Linked DNA regions of Homo sapiens: region 1 is linked to region 2. A link means that fine-mapping ties the variant in region 2 to the expression of a gene that starts in the linked region. Tissue or cell type: whole blood. Region 2 holds a variant in brackets; the other region holds the start of a gene. All regions are shown on one strand. Distances are from middle to middle.

Region 1 (10,572 bases), 94 kb before region 2:
ATGTGTTGTCTGTGGCTGCTTGTGTTCTACAATGGCAGAGCTGAGTAACTGTGTCAGAGGGTGTGTAGCCTACAAAGCTGAAAATATTACTCTCTGGCCCTTCACAGAAAGGTTACCAACTCCTGCCCTAGATAACAAAGATAACTACCACTTGGTTGAGGATACTGCTCACCAAGTACCCCTACAGTGACCCACACCAGTCAAGCAAGGAAACAAGGTAAGTCTGTGTAAACTTTATAAAAATGCTCTTGTTCCTCTTGCACATGACCTCTGTGAGTAGGGGATTAGAGAAAAGTAAAGCATTTGAAGTGACTGACAATCACTCCTGTTATATAGCAGATCCCCTTTATCCATGGGAAAAACATTCTAAGACTCCCTGTGGACACCTGAAATCATGGATAGTACTGAATCCTAAATCCTATATATACACCCTGCATTTACTATGCAGACATACCTGTGGTAAAGTTTAATATATAAATTAGGCACAGTAAGAGATGAACAACAACAACAATAAAATAGAACAGTTATAACAACATCTACAAGGATTGGGTGGAAAAATAAAAAATACATGTAACAATATGCCAGCATCAGTACTCTTGTGCTCTGGTGCAATTGTTAAGTAATATCAGGGTTATGTGAATGCAGTAGCCCTGCGACAATAGCTCTGATAACCAAGAAGGCTACTAAATGGACAGCATGGATATGCTGAACGAAGGCAGAATTCACATCCTGGGCAGACAGGGCAGGGTGGCATGAGATTTCATCATGCTACTCAAAATGGTGCATAATTTAAAATTTATGAATTGTTTCTTCCTAGAATTTTCCATTTAACATATATATATATTTTTTTACCATGGTTGACTGCAGGTACCTGAAACTGCCGAAACAAAACAGCACATAAGGAGAGACTACTGTATTTTGCTTTATGCAAGATTTCAGGTATATTTCAATATGTTACCTTTTTCCTACAACATGGCTCTCTGCCCCCCACCGCCACCTTTTTCTCTCAGTCTCTTTCATCTTAGCCCTTTAGTATGCTCTTCTCTGAGCTCAGCAGTGCAGAGGCTGTACCATGTGTTTCCCAAAGTAAATGGTTTCCTCTTTCTGCTCCAGTTCCCTCCAGCTGCAATAGCAGGGAGTTGGGACAGAAACAAATCAAATAGTTCTTAAAATTCTGGGAGGACTATTGAATGGCCACAAAGCCCATCCAGAAACCCTGCTGGTCAAACAAATTGATTAAATTTGTCAAATCATGTATTACATTTACTACAGCAAGGGAGATCATCTTGACAGGGTTTTGGTAGCATTTCAATAGAGGAATGTTAGGCAAGAGTATACATAAGTTTCTGGGATATAAACGCCACCAGTTTAAGTGGGTGCTTCTCCCCCCACAGTGGCGAATGGGTAAGGATTAGGCAAAGTTTGTGACTTAGTTTAAAACGGATGGACACAAAAAGCCAGGCTTGATGAGCAATCTGTCCAGATAAACATAATGTTTGTCCTAAAAATCAAAATGTTTGTCCTGATAGCTGTTTATTTAGATAAACTGATTTGCAAAAATTTCCTAGAGCAAAAAGTTAGGTTGACATAAGTGGTGTTGATTCTCAGGCCCCACAGTTGGCACAGGCAGTCTCATTTCTCAAGACAAAATGAAAAGAAGTCAGCTAAAACTTATAATCTTTAAAAGCTGTAAAACAATTGGGGAGACGGGTGGATATCCCAACCAATAATAGTTGCTCTACGTTTTATACTTAAAAGAAACAACCTATTACTATTTGGCCAAATCATCATATGGTGAATTGATCTAACAAATAAAAGAGTTTTGGCAACATGGACTGCTTCTAATGTAAGTGTTACATAAAATTTTGTCCTTGACTTTCTTTTTTTCTCTCTATAGCCCTCTTTTAAACTTAACCATGGCTTCCTATCATCTACAAAGTTATACCCCCAATCTTAGTTTCAATCCTTGATCTCTCTTCATTTTATTTGTGTATTTATGTATTTATTTATTTAGAGATGGAGTCTCACTCTGTTGCCCAGGCTGGAGTGCAGTAGCACCATCTTGGCTCACTCCAAGCTCCGCCTCCTGGGTTCAAGCAATTCTCCTGTCTCAGCCTCCCAAGTAGCTGGGAATACACATGTGCACCACCATGCCCAGTTAATTTTTTTTGTATTTTTGGTAGAGACAGGGTTTCACCATGTTGGCTAGGCTGGTCTCGAACTCCTGACCTCAAGTGATTCACCTGCCTCGGCCTCCCAAAGTGTTGGGATTACAGGCATGAGCCACTGCACCCAGCCTAATCCTTGATCTTTCTTTCAGATTCAAAATTATATTCTAACTGCCTGCTTGATATTTCTACTGGATATTCTGATTCATTTTCCCCGTAAGACACTTCTTCCTCCATAATAGTCTAATCACCATTCTACCTGTCAACGAAGCTAAAACTAAAAGAGTAATTTCTTTTTTTTTTTTTTGGGGGGACGGAGTTTCGCTCTTGTTGCCCAAACTGGAGTGCAATGGTGCAAGCTCGGCTCACCGCAACCTCTGCCTCCCAGGTTCAAGCGATTCTCCCACCTCAGCCTCCCAAGGAGCTGGGATTACAGGCATGCACCACCACGGCCGGCTAATTTTGTATTTTTAGTAGAGACAGGGTTTCTCCATGTTGGTCAGACTAGTCTCGAACTCCCCACCTCAGGTGATCCACCTGCCTCAGCCTTCCAAAGTGCTGGGGTTACAGGCGTGAGCCACGGCCCCCAACTAAAAGAGTAATTTCTAATTCTTCTCTTTCCTCGGTCCCTCTATTCAAAACTATTCATGTCCCAGATCCAAAGGATTCTCTAAAGCAGTGTTAAAGTGCTGGTCAGTGAGGAGATAAGGAGTTTATGCAAGAACATAAACCAAGCCCTGTTTCCTTCATGGAGAAAGCCTCATCAGCTGGACTAAATAATGTGCTTAGTGACACACTTAATTACTAGTCTGGCTCAAGCTTCTTACTTTGTTACAAACCAGAAATAGCTTGCTGACCAACTGCCAGTCTCAGACTGTACCTTGTCCCAGAAGGGTACAAAATTAGGTTCTAAGGGCAAATATGGACCTTTACCTAGGGACCACACTCTAGCATGACAATGAAGATCATGTAGTCATCCCTGTCTTAGCCCCAAGTTCTGAAGAATTTTTCTTAACATTGTTAGTCTGTTTCCTCTTTTTTTCACTAAGCACTGTGTTTTAAAATTCTATCCAAATGAATCTACTCTTTGCTTTTCTTTCATTTATTTATCTATTTATTTATTTATTTTGAGACCAGGTTATGAGATTGGCTAACTTTTTATTTTTGGTAGAGACATGGTTTTGCCATGTTGCCTAGACTGGTCTCCAACTCCTGGCCTCAAGCAATCCACCCTCCTCAGGGTCCCAAAATGTTGGGATTACAGGTGTGAGCCACCATGCCTGGCCTACCCTTTGCTTTTCTAACAGCTGCATAATATTCCATGGTAACTCTCCCATTCCAGCTCCATGCCACCAGAAATAATTCTGCAAAGAACATCTTCATGTGTCTCCTGGTTTGGGCTCTTCACCTCTTAAGATTTTGTAACAGTCTTCTAAGTGTCTCCCTATTTCCAACTTCTGCCTAATTCAAATCTCTCTCTGCTCACAGTACAGTTCTAAAACCTTTGATAGCTCCCCATGACTGAAAGAGGAAATGCTCTTACTTCATCCTGGTCCCTAAGATTCTATTCCCAATGACCTGGCTTTATGTCTCACTACTGTGCTATTCATATTGTATCTTCCATTCACATTGGAGCGCTACTTTCTGGTCTTCTCTCATATTTCTACCTTTCCTGCCTGTCAAACCTTTACTCTTTTTATTTCACTCTCTACGATACATTTCCTCCCATTTGCAACCGTCAGATACTACCAATGTTCAAAAATAACCCCCTTGACAAAGCTTTCTCCTATTCTTTTCCTTATTAGAAATTTCAAAAGTTTGTTACTCTCCCGCTTGTGATATTATTCTACATATATTATAGTTATTTATTTTATTTTTTTGAGACAGTCTCGCTCTGTCGCCTAGCAGCCTAGGCGTGCAGTGGCGCGATCTCAGCTCACTGCAACCTCTGCCTCCTGGGTTGAGGCGATTCTCCTGCCTCAGCCTCCAGAGTAGCTGGGACTACCGGCGCCACTACTACTCCTGGCTAATTTTTGTATTTTTAGTACATGCCGCGGTTTTGCCGTGCTGGCTAGGCTGGTCTCCAACTCTCCTGATCTCAAGTGCCTCGGCCTCCCAAAGTGCTGGGATTACAGGCGTGAACCACCGTGCCCAGATAATTTTTGTATCTTTAGTAGAGGCGGGGTTTCGCCACGTTGCCCAGGCTGGTCTCGAACTCCTGAGCTCAAGCAGTTCTCCCACCTCGGCCTCCCAAGTTTAATGTAAAATATCAGATGCCATTGTTTCAGAAAGCCTTCAGTAGATTAAGGAGATTGTTCTCCTTATCCTTAAGATGTCTATTTTTTACATGGCAATATTAACGGACTGAAAGCTCCTGGAGAGACGCAATTGCCCTTGTAACTTCCATTTCCGTACAATTTCTGGTAGGAAATAATAATAACAATAACACTTAGTGGTGTTTATTATTTGCTGGGCATCCTTATAAGGGTTTTACATGTTTTAAATTTATCCCTCAGGACAACTCCATGTGATGGGTGCTATTATCACAAAAATTTTATAGATAAAGAACCTAGGCACAGGGAGAGGTTACGTTACCGGTCCATGGTCACGTGGCTGGTGAATGGCAGAGCCGGGGGCTGAACCCAGCAATCTCAGCCAGGGATCCGTGGTCTTAACCACTTTGTTACCTTTATCCCAGGGTCTGTCAATGTTTATTCCAGTTACAGGGGTGGAATTCTGCTAGAAGCTTTTGAGAACCTCATCTAGCGTTGTGTTTTTTTCTACCAAGGCTTTTAGCTGCTAAGAGAGAGGCCACTGCCAGTAACAGCCGGGGCGCCGAGCTGTCAAGGCTGACGGAGGAATGGACGCTCATCGCGCAGCGGAGTGTTGGAGGGGCAAGCCCGCCAAGAGACCCACTTTGCACAACTGTCCTCAGCCAGGAAACGACAGATCAGGAACCCAGGGACAGAAACACACGCGGGGCCTCTTCAGAGGTCGGCGGGGGGGGTGGGAAAGGGGCGGGGAGGAAGAGCAGCGCAGGGCCTGGCCGTTTGGAGGAGGTGCTGGGGCGGCGCGAAGGGAGGCGGGACAGGGTAGACTCACAGATCCAGGAGCTGACTGACCCGCCGTGGGCGAGGCATCGCTGCAGCGTCTGAAGCCTCTTCCGCGGTCCCAGGGCCTCCAGAACCCAGCCAGGGACCGTCCGCCAACTCCCGCCCACCGCGCGACGCGTAGGTTTTTGTGACGTCACACGGATTTTTCCGGTGACCGGGGCGTGGCCACGCTTCGGACTCCACAAGGAAAGAAGAGAGCCCCCTTTGGGGCGGAGCCACTGAGGGCTGCGCGGAAGAGGCTGGGTGTGATAAACTATAAAGAGGCCCTAAACTCGGATGCAACGTGACGGGAGTTGTAGTTCTTTCACCTGGCGGGCGTCTGCTCCGGTTCAGCTGCAGGAGGTTTCTTGGGAGTTCAGCCCAGCGCGCAGCCCCGCCGCGACGCCGCGAGCCGAGAACTCTCCTGGGGCGAAGGGAGCGCTGAGAAGTCGCTACTCTTACTAAAAGGATGCGTTGGATGCTGGGCCATACCCTTGGCGATGCACACTGGAGACCCGCTCGGATACGGACTCCATTAACATCAAACGGAGCGTGTTAGAGGATCCGAGTTTACTGAGCACTTTCTAGGAAGCGTGCACTGAGCTACGTGCTTTCTAGGCCTTAGTTCAATACTTAACCATATTCATTATAATCCGGTGAAATCGTAATTATTTAGCCTTATTTTACAGATGAGGACACTGCGTACCAACAAGTAACCTCACTAAGAATTTCGTCATGGAGGAGAAGGGAACCTGTATTCAAATTAGGAAGGATCCTGAAGAAAGGGCACCTTTAGGTGGAATTTTATCTTTGGTTCTGCTGCAGAGTACTTGCTGCTTTTTAGTGCTCCCTCCACCCCCCTCATTCTTCCTTGTAGATTAGTCTGTTGTTTGTATGCTGAGTTCCTTTTTTAAGCTCCTTGAAAGTTGGAACCCACTGCTGTTGCCTGTTCAGGATGCTACACATTGAATCAACATGGATTTATTAAGCGCTGAACGAGGGCTAGGGATCGTGCTGGGTGCTGAGGATTGAGTGGCGAACACTTGGGTCAGACAAGTAAAAGGGCAATTAGAATAACTGTTAAATGCTTAGATGGGGTTAGTTCTATGGAAGCACCCATGGGGGTGGGATACAGATCAGAGAGAAAAGGGTGGTCTGCAAATAGTTTGGGATGGCTACACTGGAGAGTGATCAAGAGTGAGTGTAGGGCAGGGGTTGGCCGACTTTTTCCATAAAGTGCTCTGAAAGTTGCAGATTCCAGGAGAAGTAACTATTGTCAGACCCAGACAAATTGGAGCCTAGAGACCAGAAAGGAAGGAAACTCATGCTTGTATGTCTGAGATAAGAACTGTCTCAAGGCCAGACGCGGTGGCTCACACCTGTAATCCTAGTACTTTGGGAGGCCGAGGCGGGCGGATCACGAGGTCAGGAGTTTGAGACCAGCCTGGCCAACGTGGTGAAATTCCCGTCTCTACTAAAAATACAAAAAAAAAAAAAAAAAACTGGGTGTGGTGGCGGGCGCCTGTAATCCCAGCTACTGAGGAGGCTGAGGCAGGAGAATCGCTTGAACTCGGAGGAGGTTATAGTGAGCCGAGATCGTGCCACTGCACTCCAGCCTGGGCGACAGAGCAAGACTCCGTCTCAAAAAAAAAAAAAAAGAAAGAACGAACTGCCTCAAGGACTTTAAAAAATAAACCAAAAAACCCACAATTTCTTCACATCTTTCATGCATTTAATGTTTTGCACAACTTGCTTGTTTTGCAAATATGCGCACATTTCTATGACAAGATTTATTGCTAAATATTCTTTAAAACTGCAGCAGTTCAGATAAGATACTGTCGAAAGGACGTTTGGCCCAGCAGCAGGACCTCCACCAATGAACGGACTCCAATTCTTGATTTGAGCCTTGGGAACCAATCAACTTAGTTTCCAAGAGTTTATGTGAACTTCCCTCCTTTACCAGTAAAATCTTCCCCCTATTCTTCCCTTCTCCAGACCCGTGGCTTGCCATAGCTGTACATCTTGGATTATAATTCTTTTTGTTCACTCCCAAAGAAACTCAGTATCTTTGGAGAATTCTTTCTTTGTTGTCTTTTAGCTTCCCAGAGCCAAACAAGAAATATTTTAGGTTTTGTGGGTCATGCTGGCTTGGTCACAGCTATTCAACTTGTATCTTAAAATTAGCCATAGACAGTATGAATGGGTGGGTCTCTGTTCCAATAAAACCTTATCCTAAACACTGAAGTTTGAATTTTATGTAATTTTCAACTGTCATGAAATACTCATCTTTTGATCTTTTTCAGCCACTGAAAAATGTAAAAGCCATCCTTAAGTTGCAAGCTATACAAAAACAGACAGTGGACTGGATTTGACCCTTGAGCCATTTGTCCATGTGCCCTCACCTGATCTAGAAAGCTAAAATGCACATGCCTCACGCCTGTAATCCCAGCACTTTGGGAGGCCAAGGTGGGCGGATCAGCTGAGGTTAGGAGTTCGAGACCAGCCTGGGCAATATGGAGAAACTCTACTAAAAGTACAAAAAAATTAGCTGGGCGTGGTGGCAGGTGCCTGTAATCCCAGCTACTCAGGAGGCTGAGGCAGGAGAATTGCTTGAACCCAGGAGGCGGAGGTTGCACTGAGCCGAGATCACACCACTGTACTCCAGCCTGGGCAACAAGAGTGAGACTCTACCTCAAAAAAAACAAAGAAATTACGAATTTTAAGATGGTGATAGCAGAGCACTAAACCCAGAGTGGGGCCCGTGTGACTGCACATTTTGCCCACCCATGAAGCCAGCCCTGGGTGCGTCCAACTTCAGGATTCCCCCCCCCAAAAATCAGTTCAGGAACCCTATGTCAAAATAAAAATCAAAGACAAATATGAGCACAGAGAGACATTTTTACTTGCAGTTCAAGAAAATCAGACTTTCAGAGAGTGGCTCGCTAAATAGAATAGAGGAATTTATAGCTCAGATGAAATGGCAGATATTTATAGCTCAGATATGGCAGTTCATTCCAATTGGATAAGAACAAGATGTTCCTGTTTTGTGGTAAGGAAAACAGGATGTTCTTGTTTTTGTGGCTTATCTCTGGAGGCAAAGCTTTTAGGATTTCCCGTTAGTCAAGGCTTTTAGGAGGTTCCCGCTATTCATGGTTTATCTTTGAATGCAAAGTTATTGGGAATGAAAGTCTTTTCTAGTGTATGGTAAGTGATTTGTAGGCAGGGTTAGGCTAAGGGCAAGATATTTTCCTTTTCTCCTCTCTGTTTGCTGTGCCCACTTTAATATAGTTTCCTCTAGCTCAGAATCTCCTCCACTTCCTACCATAGCTACCATACAAAGTAAACGTTATCATAGATTGTTGCTGTGGGTTTGTTTTACTTTACTCCAGGCTGGAGTGCAGTGGCGCAATCTCGGCTCACTGCAACCTCTGCCTCTCGGATTCAAGCAATTCTCCCGCCTCAGCCTCCCAAGTAGCTGGGATTACAGGCATGTGCCACCATGCCAGGCTAATTTTTTTTTTTTTGTATTTTTAGTAGAGACGAGGTTTCACCATATTGGCTAGGCTGGTGTCGAACTCCTGACCTTGTGATCCACCTACCTCGACCTCCCAAAGTGCTGGGATTACAGGCGTGAGCCACCGTACCCGGCCTCTGGGTTTGTTTTATAAAAATAATTAACAAAATTACTTTTCTTAAATCATGCTGTTAATTCATAATGTAATATATGAGCTGTATGTGGACCCATGTTTTAAAATACAATAAATATATATAAAACAAGTATATCTTATTTATATGAATGTGTGCTTTCACAAGAACAGAACGGAGCTAAGCCAAGTGAGCCCCTACTTTATTATCCTACCATGTGTAGGTTATTTTCAAATAGGATTGCTCTTAACTCTCCAAGTGTCCTTTGAGAAAATAACACGTCTTTTTATTTAGTTTCTTTTCATAGCTTGTTTTATAATATCACACTCCAAATTGGAAATAACAGTGCCCATGCTCATGGATTGTTATACATTGTTGAAATTTCCCATTGGCTAGAAACACTTGCTTTGTTTCTAGGTTAGAGATCTGTGACTTTCAAATTCTCAGGAGTCTGAGTCATACAATGGATGACTCAGGATCCAAGCAGGTTAAGAGTTGGGCAAGTTCAAACAGGAGAAGCAAGGAGATGTTAATAAAGGAGCTGTTCCCAAAGGTGTGGACAGAGTTAGGGCAGAGCAAGGGTAAAGGTAGTTCAATACCATAGCGCTACAATAGCAGGAAGACCTTACCTCTTCTGGTCCTGGAGGGCAAAACCAAAACCTTGCCAGAGTGACCACAGGTGAAGCCACCTGAAAGGAACTGTGGCCTTTGAATTTGTAACCGCCTAAGGGGTTCACCTTGCCCCCTGCCTAGAAAGAACTGATTCATCAAGACGGGGGAATTACAATAGAGAAAGAGTAATTCACACAGAGCCAGCTGTGCGGGAGACAGTTTTATTATTACTCAAATCAGTCTCCCCAAGCATTTGGGGAGCAGAGTTTTTTTTTGTTTGTGTTTTTTTTTCAGAGTCTTGCTCTGTCACCCAGGCTGGAGTGCAGTGGCGCTGTCTTGGCTCACTGCAACCTCTGCCTCCTGGGTTCAAGTGATTCTCCTGCCTCAGCCTACCAAGTAGCTGAGATTACAGGCATGTGCCACCACGCCCGGCTAATTTTGTATTTTTAATAGAGACGGGGTTTCACTATGTTGGTCAGGCTGGTCTCGAACTCCTGACCTCGGGTGATCCACCCACCTCAACCTCCAAAAGTGCTGGGATTACAGGTGCGAGTCACCACGCCCAGCCAGGAGCAGAATCTTTAAGGATAAATTGGTGGGTTGGGGGAAGCCAGTGACCCGGGAGTGCTGATTGGTCAGGACGGAAATGAAATCATAGGGAGTTGAAGCTGTCTTCTTGTGCTGAGTCACTTCCTGGGTGGGAGCCACAAGATCAGATTAGCCAGTTTATCCATCTGGGTGGTGCCAGCTGATCCGGCAATTGCAGGGTCTGGAAAATATCTCAAGCACTGAGATATTTGAAGAAAATCTTGAAGCCTCTAGTTGCATGACTCTTAAACCATAATTTCTAATCTTGTAGCTAATGTTAGTCCTACAAAGGGAATCTAGTCCCCAGGCAAGAAGGAGGTGTGCTTTGGGAAAGGGCTGTTATCATCTTTGTTTTAAACTATAAGTTTCTCTCAAAGTTAGTTCAGCCTATGCTGAACGAACAAGGAGGTTAGAAGCAAGATGGAGTCGGTTAAGTTAAAACTCTTTCACCGTCTCAGTGATAATTT
Region 2 (10,572 bases):
CTAATTTTTTTTTATATTTTTAGTAGAGACAGGGTTTCACCATGTTGGCCAGGCTGGTCTTGAACTCCTGACCCTGTGATCCACCTGCCACGGCCTCCCAAAGTGTTGGGATTACAGGCATGAGCCACTGCACCCGGCTAGAGGTGATTTGTTATACAACAAAGGCTAACTGAAACAGACATATCTTGAGATCATTTGGCTACTTGGGCAAGGGCTCAGAGGTGAAAATGTTAAGAGTTATCAACTTATAGTCTGGTCCCCAGTTCTCAGGCGTGAAAATTCAAAATTGTGAATGAATCCAGAATTGATGAGATTCCATGAATACCAGGATAACCAAAGAATTCATGATAACCAAACTCATAAGAAACTATGTAAGCCAGGATATCTACCAGAAAAATTTATAGTGAAAATTACATATATTTTTCATGTTCTCTTTTTGGTAACTGGTAAGTATCTTTTTTTTTTTTTTTTTTTTTTTTTTTTTTTTTTTTTTTTTTTTTTGAGACAGAGTCTCACTCCATCACCCAGGCTGGAGTGCAGTGGCGTGATCTTGGTGGTTCACTGCAACCTTCACCTCTTGGGCTCAAGCCATTCTCCTGCCTCAGCCTCCCGAATAGCTGGGATTACAGGTGCCCGCCACCACACCCAGCTAATTTTTGTATTTTTAGTAGAGGCGGGTTTTCACTATGTTGGCCAGGCTGGTCTCGAACTCCTGACCTCAAGTGATCCACCCACCTCAACCTCCCAAAGTGTTGGGATTACAAGTGTGAGCTGCTGTGCCTGTCCAGTAACTGGTAAGTATTGACAGAATCAGTTTACTTAAAGGAGAGTGAAACTGGAATAACAGGAGTTATATAGTTTTAAGAGATACTTTATCCAAACTGAAATAAACCATTCTTATCCCACAATAGTATATAACTATGGAACAACTAGAGTATTTGTGTCCACTATAGTAAATTTCTCTGGACTCTGAATAGTGAGAGCTAATCAGTGCAAAATCTTGCTCTCTGGCTGTCCTTTACTTATCTCTTCTGACCTTTGTTTTGATTGCAAACTTTCTTTGGACAGTATAAAAATCAGTATTTTAGGATTAGAACCCAATCAATATATTGAGTTCAGTTACATTCTAGTTCTTTCTGCCTGATATTACACTCCAATTGCCTTAATGGATCTTGAGTGCTTCCAGATATTCTTATTAAATATTTGTCATTTTTCTTTTGGCTTTGTTAATTGTGACTTATGCCATGCATAATTTTTTGCTTAGTAGTCAAATTTATCATTCTAAAACAATCTCTTCTGTGTTTTGCATTATACTTGGAAGGTCAAGGACCTTAGAGACATACTTCTGGCTATTGGATGTAGACTTTCTTTCTTTTTTTTTTTTTTTTTTTTTTGAGTCAGTGTTTTGCTCTGTCCTCAAGCCTCGAGCGCAGTGGTACAATCACAGCTCACTGCTGCCTCCACCTTCAGGGCTCAAGCAATCCTCCCACCTCAGTCTCCTGAGTAGCTGAGACTATGCCCAGCTAATTTTTTATTTTTTGTAGAGATGGGGTCTCACTATGTAACCCAGGCTTGTCTTAAACTCCTGGGCTCAAGGGATCCTTTTGCCTCAACCTCCCAAAGTGCTGGGATTACAGGTGTGAGCCACCACACCTGGCTGCAAATAGACTTTCAATAAAAAAAACTTTCATTCCAGGATCATCAGTGCAGGAGTAAGCTAGTTGACCTGGTAACAAAACACATGACCTCAATAATAAACAGGAACTCCTAAAGACAATAAGAGGTAAGATCTTAGGAAAAAAAAAAAAAGTTTTCCTCATTCTTGACCTGTGAAACAATTTCCTGGCTTATATTAGAAACAATCATTTTGCCAGTTCTTGTTTTGTTTCATTTTGGCAGGGTCTGGTGCTGGTGCTCTCTTCTATGTAATAAGGTGCCGGATACGTACCTACTTACAAGAAAGATTATTTGTGTCTTCAAAGCAGGTTTACTTTTGTTCATAAAGCAAAATAAAATAGCATACTAGTCATCTGCTACTTATTTTAATTTATGGTTGTTTGTGTTTACACAAGAAAGAGGGCCTTTTGTGAAAAGTAAATGATTTACATATCAGAGATAATTAAGATAACCCTATGCCTCTGATGAGCAACCTCACATTTTAACCATCTTGCTATAAATCTATATAGATCAACTGAAATTTATACACCTTAGTCACACCCAAATTTATTATCTTTAACTTCAAGATCGATTATCTCCTGTCACATCAAAGTAAAATTGTCTGTTACAGAAATATATATGTGAGCATGCAACTGCATAAAAATAAGGCAGCTTTTAGTGTATTTTGTGCATATTGCCATAAATTTGTACAGAGTGACATTCTAATGATATTTCTTTTATTTTCAGATTTATAAATATGTGATTACATATTGTGGAAAAATAATGCTATAGGCTCTGTATTTCAGTTATTATTATATCTTATTCATTCTTTACTGCATTTATGCCAGTAAAATTGATCTCACAGGCCTGCTTTTTGCTTATAATGCTAACTAATGAAAATCCAGAGCTTGGCTTATCAATGTGAGCCTTTGTAATTAACAGAAGTCTTGGAAATAAATAAAGGATATGCTCCTCTCCCCTATAGCACAGAGAGGAGGATGTCTTTCTGAGATATAACACATATTCAAAATATCTGATTTTGTAAAGTGTCAAATGGTCGATATTGACAAAAATATCAATCTTTTTTCTCTTTTGTGCAATATGGAGAGTGGTGTGAATCTTCGGTTTCTTATTGTAAGTCATTTTCTTTGAAAAAAGAGTTTTATAAAACTAAGACTTAGAAACTTACTTGCCCTGGCCTTGAAAATTACCTTTGGAAAAATGCTTGTGCTTTATGGGTCCTGAGAATATACTACTTTTGAGATTTGTCAGGACGCATTTGGCTGAGTAACAGGTTATTCTCATGGCTAAAAGCCTATTACAGCAAAGGATATTATACAGGATCAGCAGAAAAAAGTTATGCCTACAAGAAGACCCGAAAGATTAGGTGCAGACTTCTAGGTTCTCCCTCCATGCTGGTCACAGTAAGGTGCTTTTGGCACGACTACAAATTATACGAACATATATGAGATGTCTCTGCCCACGTAAGTCCACTTAGGTCTGAGGTCCCGGAGTTCTTACAGGAGTCTGGTTGCACAAGGCACATTCCTCCCACGTGACAATCTATGGTGCAGATCTTTACCCAGGAGGCAGGTGCTCATGGCACATCTTGATATTTGTGTTAGGCAGTGCTGGCAATTGAGCATGTCATGCCTCAGTGCCTCAGGAGCACAAAACAACTTCATTGGTGACTATGTTAACTCCAAGGACTTAGCCCCAAGTGGTTGGCTAAGGGTTGGTACCGTGACTCCAGGTACTCCTGGAAATAAGCTGAGTGAACTCCTTTCTCATAGATTATAATTCTGATTGGTAGCTTTACTTGATAATTTGTTGCCCTGATAGTAATGTTGTAATTGACATTTCTGCATGTGTAAATAGGATAAATTCTTGAAAGATTACTCTGCAAATCTGATCATTTGTTTCTCATCTCTTTTTTTTATATTTTATTTTATTTTATTTATTTATTTTTTTTTTGAGACAGATCTTGCTCTGTCACCCAGGATGGAGTGCAGTGGTTGTTCGCTGCAACCTCCACTTCCTGAGTTCAAGCGATTCTTGTGCCTCACCTTCCCAAGTAGCTGGGATTACAGGCACGGGCCACCATGCCCGGCTAATTTTTGTGTTTTTAGTAAAGATGAGAATTCACCATATTGGCCAGGGTGATCTCAGACTCCAGGCCTCAGGTGATCTGCCCAACTCTCCACCTCACAAAGTACTGGGATTACAGGTGTCAGCCACCACATCTGGACTGTTCCTCTTTTCTTTTGTGTATAATGGGGTTGGGTGGGGTGGTAGGGAGAAAAGTCTGACTTTGCTAGATTTCTTATTTTAACAAAGAATCTGTGAGTCTTTTCTAGGTAAAATTAACAACTAGCAAGGGGTTCTAGCAGAGTGTAATTTCAAAATACTCTATTATGCTTGTAAAATAAACTATTCACAATACATAGTGTGGTATAATAATAACAGATGTTTTTGTCAGCCTAAAAATAATGAGTTGAAGGTTCTAACGGTTGCCTTTATAGAAAATAACATCTTTGGCCGGGCGCGGTGGCTCACGCCTGTAATCCCAGCACTTTGGGAGGCCGAGGCAGGCGGATAGCCTAAAGTCAGGAGTTTGAGACCAGCCTGGCCAACATGGTGAAACCCTGTCTCTACTAAAAATACAAAAATTAGTTGGGCGTGGTGGCAGGTGCCTGTAATCCCAGCTACTGGGGAAGCTGAGGCAGGAGAATCGCTTGAACCCGGGAAGCGGAGGTTGCAGTGAGCCGAGATCACACCATTGCACTCTAGCCTGGGCAACAAGAGCAAAACTCCGTCTCAAAAAAAAAGCAAGTAACATCTTTGTCCAGGCGCGGTGGCTCACGCCTGTAACCCCAGCACTTTGGGAGGCCGAGGTGGGCAGATCATTTGAGGTCAGAAGTTTGAGACCAGCCTGACCAACATGGTGAAACCCTGTCTCTACTAAAAATACAAAAAAAATTAGCCTGGTGTGGTGGCACATGCCTGTAGTCCCAGCTACTTCGGATGCTGAGGCAGGAGAATCTCTTGAACCCGGGAGGTGGAGGTTGCAGTAAGTGGAGATCGTGCCACTGCATTCCAACCTGGGTGACACAGTGAGACTCTGTCTCAAATAAATAAATAAATAATAACATCTTCACTGAGATACAGGTATACTTCAGAGATAAGCCCATATATCAGGAATATCAGGTTTTGTGATATCAGGTTTTGTTCTAGACCACTGCCATAAAGTGAATATTGTGATAAAGCAAGTCACACAAATTTTTTGGTTTCCCAGTGCATGTAAAAGTTATGCTTACACTATACTGTAACCTACTAGGTATGCAATAACATTATGTCATAAATGTGCAACATAAATACACTAATTATAAAATACTTTATTGCTGAAAAAATGCTAACAATCATCTGAGCCTTAATTGAGTTGTCATCTTGTGTCATCAGCAAAAAGCTGGTGGAGAGTCTTGCCTCAACATGGATGACTTCTGACTGATCTGAGTGGTGGTTGCTGAAGGCTGGAGTGGATGTGGCAACTTCTTCAAATCAGACAACAAAAAAGTTTGCTGCATTGATGGACTCATTTTTAAAATATTTTATTTTATTTCAATAGTTCTTGGGGAACAGGTGGTTTTGCTTACATGGATACTTTCTTTAGTGGTGATTTCTGAGATTTTGGTGCAACTGTCACTTGAGCATTGTACACGGTGCCCGATCTATAGTCTTTTATCCCTCACTCCCCTCCCACCTTTTCCTGAGTCTCCAAAGTCCAAAGTCTATTGTATCATTCTTATGCTTTTGCATCCTCATAGCTTAGCTCCCATTTATAAGTGAGAACATACAATATTTCGTTTTCCATTCCTAAATTACTTCACTTAGAATAATGGCCTCCCGCTCCATCCAAGTTGCTGCAAATGCCATTATTTCGTTCCCTTTTATGGT[T/C]GAGTAGTATTCCATGGTGCATATATACCACATTTTCTTTATCCAGTCATTGATTGATGGGCACTTAGGTTGGTTCCATATCTTTGCGATTGTGAATTGTGCTGCTGTAACCATGCACATGCAGGTGTCTTTTTCATATAATGACTTCTTTTCCTTTGGGTAGATACCCAGTAGTGGGATTGCTAGATGGAATGGTAGTTCTATTTTTAGTTCTTTAAGTAATCTCTACACTGTTTTCTGTAGTGGTAAATGCGTTTGCATTTACTTTACACTCCCATCAGCAGTGTAGAAGTGTTCCCTTTTCACCACATCCATGCCAACATCTATTAGTTTTTGATTTTTTAATTATGGGCATTCTTGCAGGAGTAAGCTGGTATCTCATTGTGGTTTTAATTTGCATTTCCCTGATAATTAGTGATGTTGAGCATTTTTTCATATGTTTGTTGGCCATTTGTATATTTCTTTTGAGAATTGTCTGTTCATGTCTTTTTCCCTCTTTTGGATGGTGTTATTTGGTTTTTTCTTGCTGATTTATTTGAGTTACTTGTAGATTCTCAATACTAGTCCTTTGTTGGATGCATAGTTTGTGAATAATTTCTCCCACTCTGTGGGTTGTCTGTTTACTCTGTTAATTCTTTCTTTTGCTGTGCAGAGCTTTTTTGTTTAATTAGGTCCCATCTAATTATTTTTGTTTTTGTTGCATTTGCTTTTGGGTTCTTGGTCATGAACTCTTTGCCTAAACCAATGTCTACAAGAGTTTTTCTGATATTATCTTCTAGGGCATTTTTATGGTTTCGGGAGTTAGATTTAAGTCTGTGATCCATCTTAAGTTGATTTTTGTGTAAGATGAGAGATGAGGATCCAGTTTCATTCTTCTACATGTGGCTTGCCAATTATCCCAGCACCATTTGTTGAATAGGATGTCCATTCCCCACTTTATGTTTTTGTTTGCTTTGTCGAAGATCAAATAGCTGTAAGTATTTGGCTTTATGTCTGGGTTCTCTATTCTGTTCCACTGGTCCTATGTTCCTATCTTCTTCATACCAGTACCATGCTGTTTTGGTAACCACAGGCTTGGAGTATAGCTTGAAGTTGGGTAATGTGATGCCTCCAGATTTATTCCTTTTATGTAGTATTGCTTTGGCTATGCGGGCTCTTTTTCGGTTCCATATGAATTTTAGAATTTTTTTTCTAGTTCTTTCTTTTTTTGAGACGGAGTCTCGCTCTGTTACCCAGGCTGGAGTGCAGTGGCGCAATCTCGGCTCACTGCAAGCTCCGCCTCCCGGGTTCACGCCATTCTCCTGCCTCAGCCTCCCAAGTAGCTGGGACTACAGGCGCCCGCCACCACGCCCGGCTAATTTTTTGTATTTTTAGTAGAGGCGGGGTTTCACTGTGTTAGCCAGGATGGTCTCGATCTCCTGACCTCATGATCTGCCCACCTCTGCCTCCCAAAGTGCTGGGATTACAGGCGTGAGCCACCGCGCCCAGCTTTTTTTCTAGTTCTGTGAAGAATGATGATGGTATTTTGATGGAAATTGCATTGAATCTGCAGATTGCTTTTGGCAGTATGTTCATTTTCGCAATATTGATTCTACTGATCCATGAGCATGGGATATGTTTCCATTTGTTTGTGTCATCTATTATTTCTTTCAGCATGTTTTGTTTATGTTATTTCTTTCAGCATGTTATTTCTTTCAGCATATTCCTTGCAGAGGCCTTTCACCTGCTTTGGTAAGTATATTCTTAAGTATTTTGTGGCTTTTTTGGTTTTGTTTTGTTTTGTTTTGCTTTTGTTGTTTTGTTTTGTTTTTTCCAGCAATGTTGCAAAAGAGATTGAGTTCTTGATTTGATTCTCAGCTTGGTTGCTGTTGGTGTATAGCAGTGCTACGGATTTGCGTACAGTGATTTTGTATTCTGAAACTTTACTGAACAGGGACAGTTTGACTTCCACTTTATTGATTTGGATGCCCTTTGTTTCTTTTTCTTGTCTGATTGCTCTGGCTAGGACTTCCAGTACTATGTTGAATAGAAGTAATAAAAGTGGGCATCCTTGTCTTGTTCCAGTTCTCAGAGAGAATGCTTTCAACTTTTCCCCAATCAGTATAATGCTGGCTGTGGTGGACTCTTCCTTTCACAAAAGATTTCTCTAGGATGTTATGCTGTTTGATAGCATTTTACTCATAGTAGAACTTCTTTCAAAATTGTAATAAATCCTTTTAAAGGTGCTTTATCAACTAAATTTATGGAATATTCTAAATCCTTCATTATCATTTCAACAATATCCACAGCATCTTCACCAGGAATATATTCCCTCTCAAGAAACCACTTTCTTTGCTCATCCATAAAAAGCAACTCTTCATCCATTAAAGCTTTTTTTAGCATGTGATTGAAGCAATTCAGTCACATCTTTAGGCCCCACTTATAATTCCAGTTCTCTTGCTATTTCCACTACATCTTCAGTTACTTCTTCTACTGAACTCTTGAACTCTTCAAAGTCATCCATGAAGATTAAAATCAATTTCTTCCAAACTCCAGTTCATGTTCATATTTTGACCTACTTACATGAATCAAATGGCACCTAAAATGGTGAATCCTTTCCAAAAGGTTTTCAATCCACTTTGCCCAGATTCATCAGAGGAATCACTATCTGTAGCAGCCATCGTCTTACAAAATGTATCTCTTAGATAAGAAGGCTTGAAAGTCAGAATTGCCCCTTAATTCATGGGCTGCTAAGTGGATATGTTAGGATGCATGAAAACAACATTAACCTTCTTGTACATCTCCATCAGAGCTCTTGGGTGACCAGGAACATTGTCCATGAGTAGTAATATTTTGAAAGGAAGGTTTTTTTTTGGAGCAGTAGGTCTCAACAGTGGGATTAAAATATTCGGTCAATTGGCCAGGTGTGGTGGTTCATGCCTGTAATCCCAGCACTTAGGAGGCTGAGGCAGGTGGATTTGTTGAGCTCAGGAGTTCAAGACCAGCCTGGGCAACATGGCAAAACCCTGACTCTACCAAAAATATAAAAAAATTAGCCAGGCATGGTGGTATGCACCTGTAGTCCCAGCTACTCAGGTGGCTGAGGTGGGAGGCTCACTTGAGCCCAGTAGGTAGAGGTTGCAGTAAGCCAAGATCAGACCACTGCACTACAGCCTGAATGACAGAGGGAAACCCTGTCTCAAAAAATAATAATAATAATAGTAATTCAGTAAATCATGCTGTAAACAGATGTGCTGTCATTCAGACTTTTTTGTTACAATTATAGAGCAATAGAGTAGATTTAGCATAATTCTTTTTTTTTTTTTTTTCTGAGATGTAGTGTCACTCTACTGCCAAGGCTGGAGTGCAGTGCCACAATCTCAGCTCACTGCATCCTCTGCCTCCTGGGTTCAAGCAGTTCCCCTGCTTCAGCCTCCCTAGTAGCTAGGATTATGGGTGTGCACCACCACACCCGGCTAATTTTTATATTTTTAGCAGAGACAGGGTCTCACCATGTTGGCCAGGCTGGTCTCAAACTCCTGACCTCAAGTGATCTGCCTGCCACAGCCTTCCGAAGTGCTGAGATTATAGGCGTGAGCCACCGCGACTGGCCCAACTTAGCATAATTCTTACGAGCCCTAGGATTTTCAGAATGGTCAGTGAGCACTGGCTCCAACTTAAAGTCATTGGTTGCATTAGTCCCTAACAAGAGTCAGCCTGGGCCAGGCACAGTGGCTCACACCTGTAGATAGTGTGGAGTTATGCAGACGACTTTACAGATAAGTTACTCAACAACTAAAGAGATGAGAGGAGTTTCCTATAAAAACTTTTAAAAAATCAGGCCGGGCATGGTGCCTCACGCCTGTAATCCCAGCACTTTGGGAGGCCGAGGTGGGTGGATCACCTGAGGTCAGGAGTTTGAGACCAGCTTGACCAACAAGGTGAAACCCCATCTCTACTAAAAATACAAAAGTTAGCCGGGCATGGTGGCAGGCACCTGTAGTCCCAGCTACTCGGGAGGCTGGGACAGAAGAATTGCTTGAACCTGGGAGGTGGAGGTTGCAGTGAGCCAAGATCATGCCACTGCATTCCAGCCTGGGTGACAGAACAAGACTCCATCTCCAAAACAAACAAACAAACAAAAAACACACAAAAAAACTTCTGGCCGGGTGCGGTGGTTCATGCCTGTAATCCCAGCACTTTGGGAGGCCAAGGTGGGTGGATCACCTGAGGTCAGGAGTTTGAGGCCAGCCTGGCCAACAAAGTGAAACCCTATCTCTACTAAAAAATACAAAAATTAGCCAGGTGTGGTGGCAGGTGCCTGTAATCCCGCTACTTGGGAGGCTGAGGCAGGAGAATTGCTTGAATCCGGGAGGTGGAGGTTGCAGTGAGCCAAGATCGCACCATTGCACTCTAGCCTGGGGGACGAGAGCAAGACTTCATCTCAAAAAACAAACAAACAAACAAACAAACAAACAAACCAAAAACCTTTTAAATTAAACTGTAAAAACGGCAGCCCACTTGGGCTCCCCTCTCCACTATAGATAGCTTTCTTCTTTCATTTATTAAACTTTCACTCCAACCTCACGCTTTGCATCCACATTCCTTAATTTGCATGGTCATAAGACAAAGAACTCCTGGTGATACTACACAACAAGAGACTACTACATTATGGTATATTGATGAGACTGTAGCAGTATTTAGAGAGATCCAACATATATTTCAAGTCTTTTTTCATCTGAAGTCACACAGGATGTATTTTCTCTCTAGAAATGAACATATGTGAAATGTCTCTGCTCAGGGAAGCCCATTCAGGTTTCAGAGTCTAAGGCTTTTATCAGGGACCAATCACAAAGACATATCCTGTTATGCGATTAGCCATAGCAACCAAAACTCAGGATCACAACAATGAGACCAGGGGTACATCATCAATCTCAATGTTTGTGCAAAGCAAATTAGCAAGCCAGCATGGCATGGTACATT

The links. PIP is the estimated chance that this variant, and not a neighbour inherited with it, causes the effect.
Region 1: it holds the start of AMN1-AS1, and the variant in region 2 is fine-mapped to the expression of AMN1-AS1 in whole blood (TOPMed, PIP 0.98).

Annotation. Positions count from the first base shown.
Region 1 is chr12:31,723,701-31,734,272 of GRCh38, forward strand. AMN1-AS1 (AMN1 antisense RNA 1) reads left to right here and starts at 5,565. Exons shown (of 1, transcript NR_198987.1): 1 at 5,565-7,504. It overlaps AMN1 (antagonist of mitotic exit network 1 homolog), which reads right to left and starts at 5,321. Exons shown (of 7, transcript NM_001113402.2): 1 at 5,271-5,321. The coding sequence starts at 5,308. It overlaps LOC105369722 (a long non-coding RNA gene), which reads left to right and starts at 89. Exons shown (of 3, transcript XR_931497.3): 1 at 89-217; 2 at 868-939; 3 at 4,957-5,190. RefSeq lists a silencer at 5,110-5,189, enhancers at 5,240-5,589, 5,602-6,234, 5,630-5,829, 9,520-10,572 and a cis regulatory region at 9,259-9,486.
Region 2 is chr12:31,817,803-31,828,374 of GRCh38, forward strand. No RefSeq gene overlaps it. Among named protein-coding and RNA genes, the nearest start is that of H3-5, 31 kb to the left of the region's middle. The variant T/C (reference allele first, on the strand shown) is at 5,611.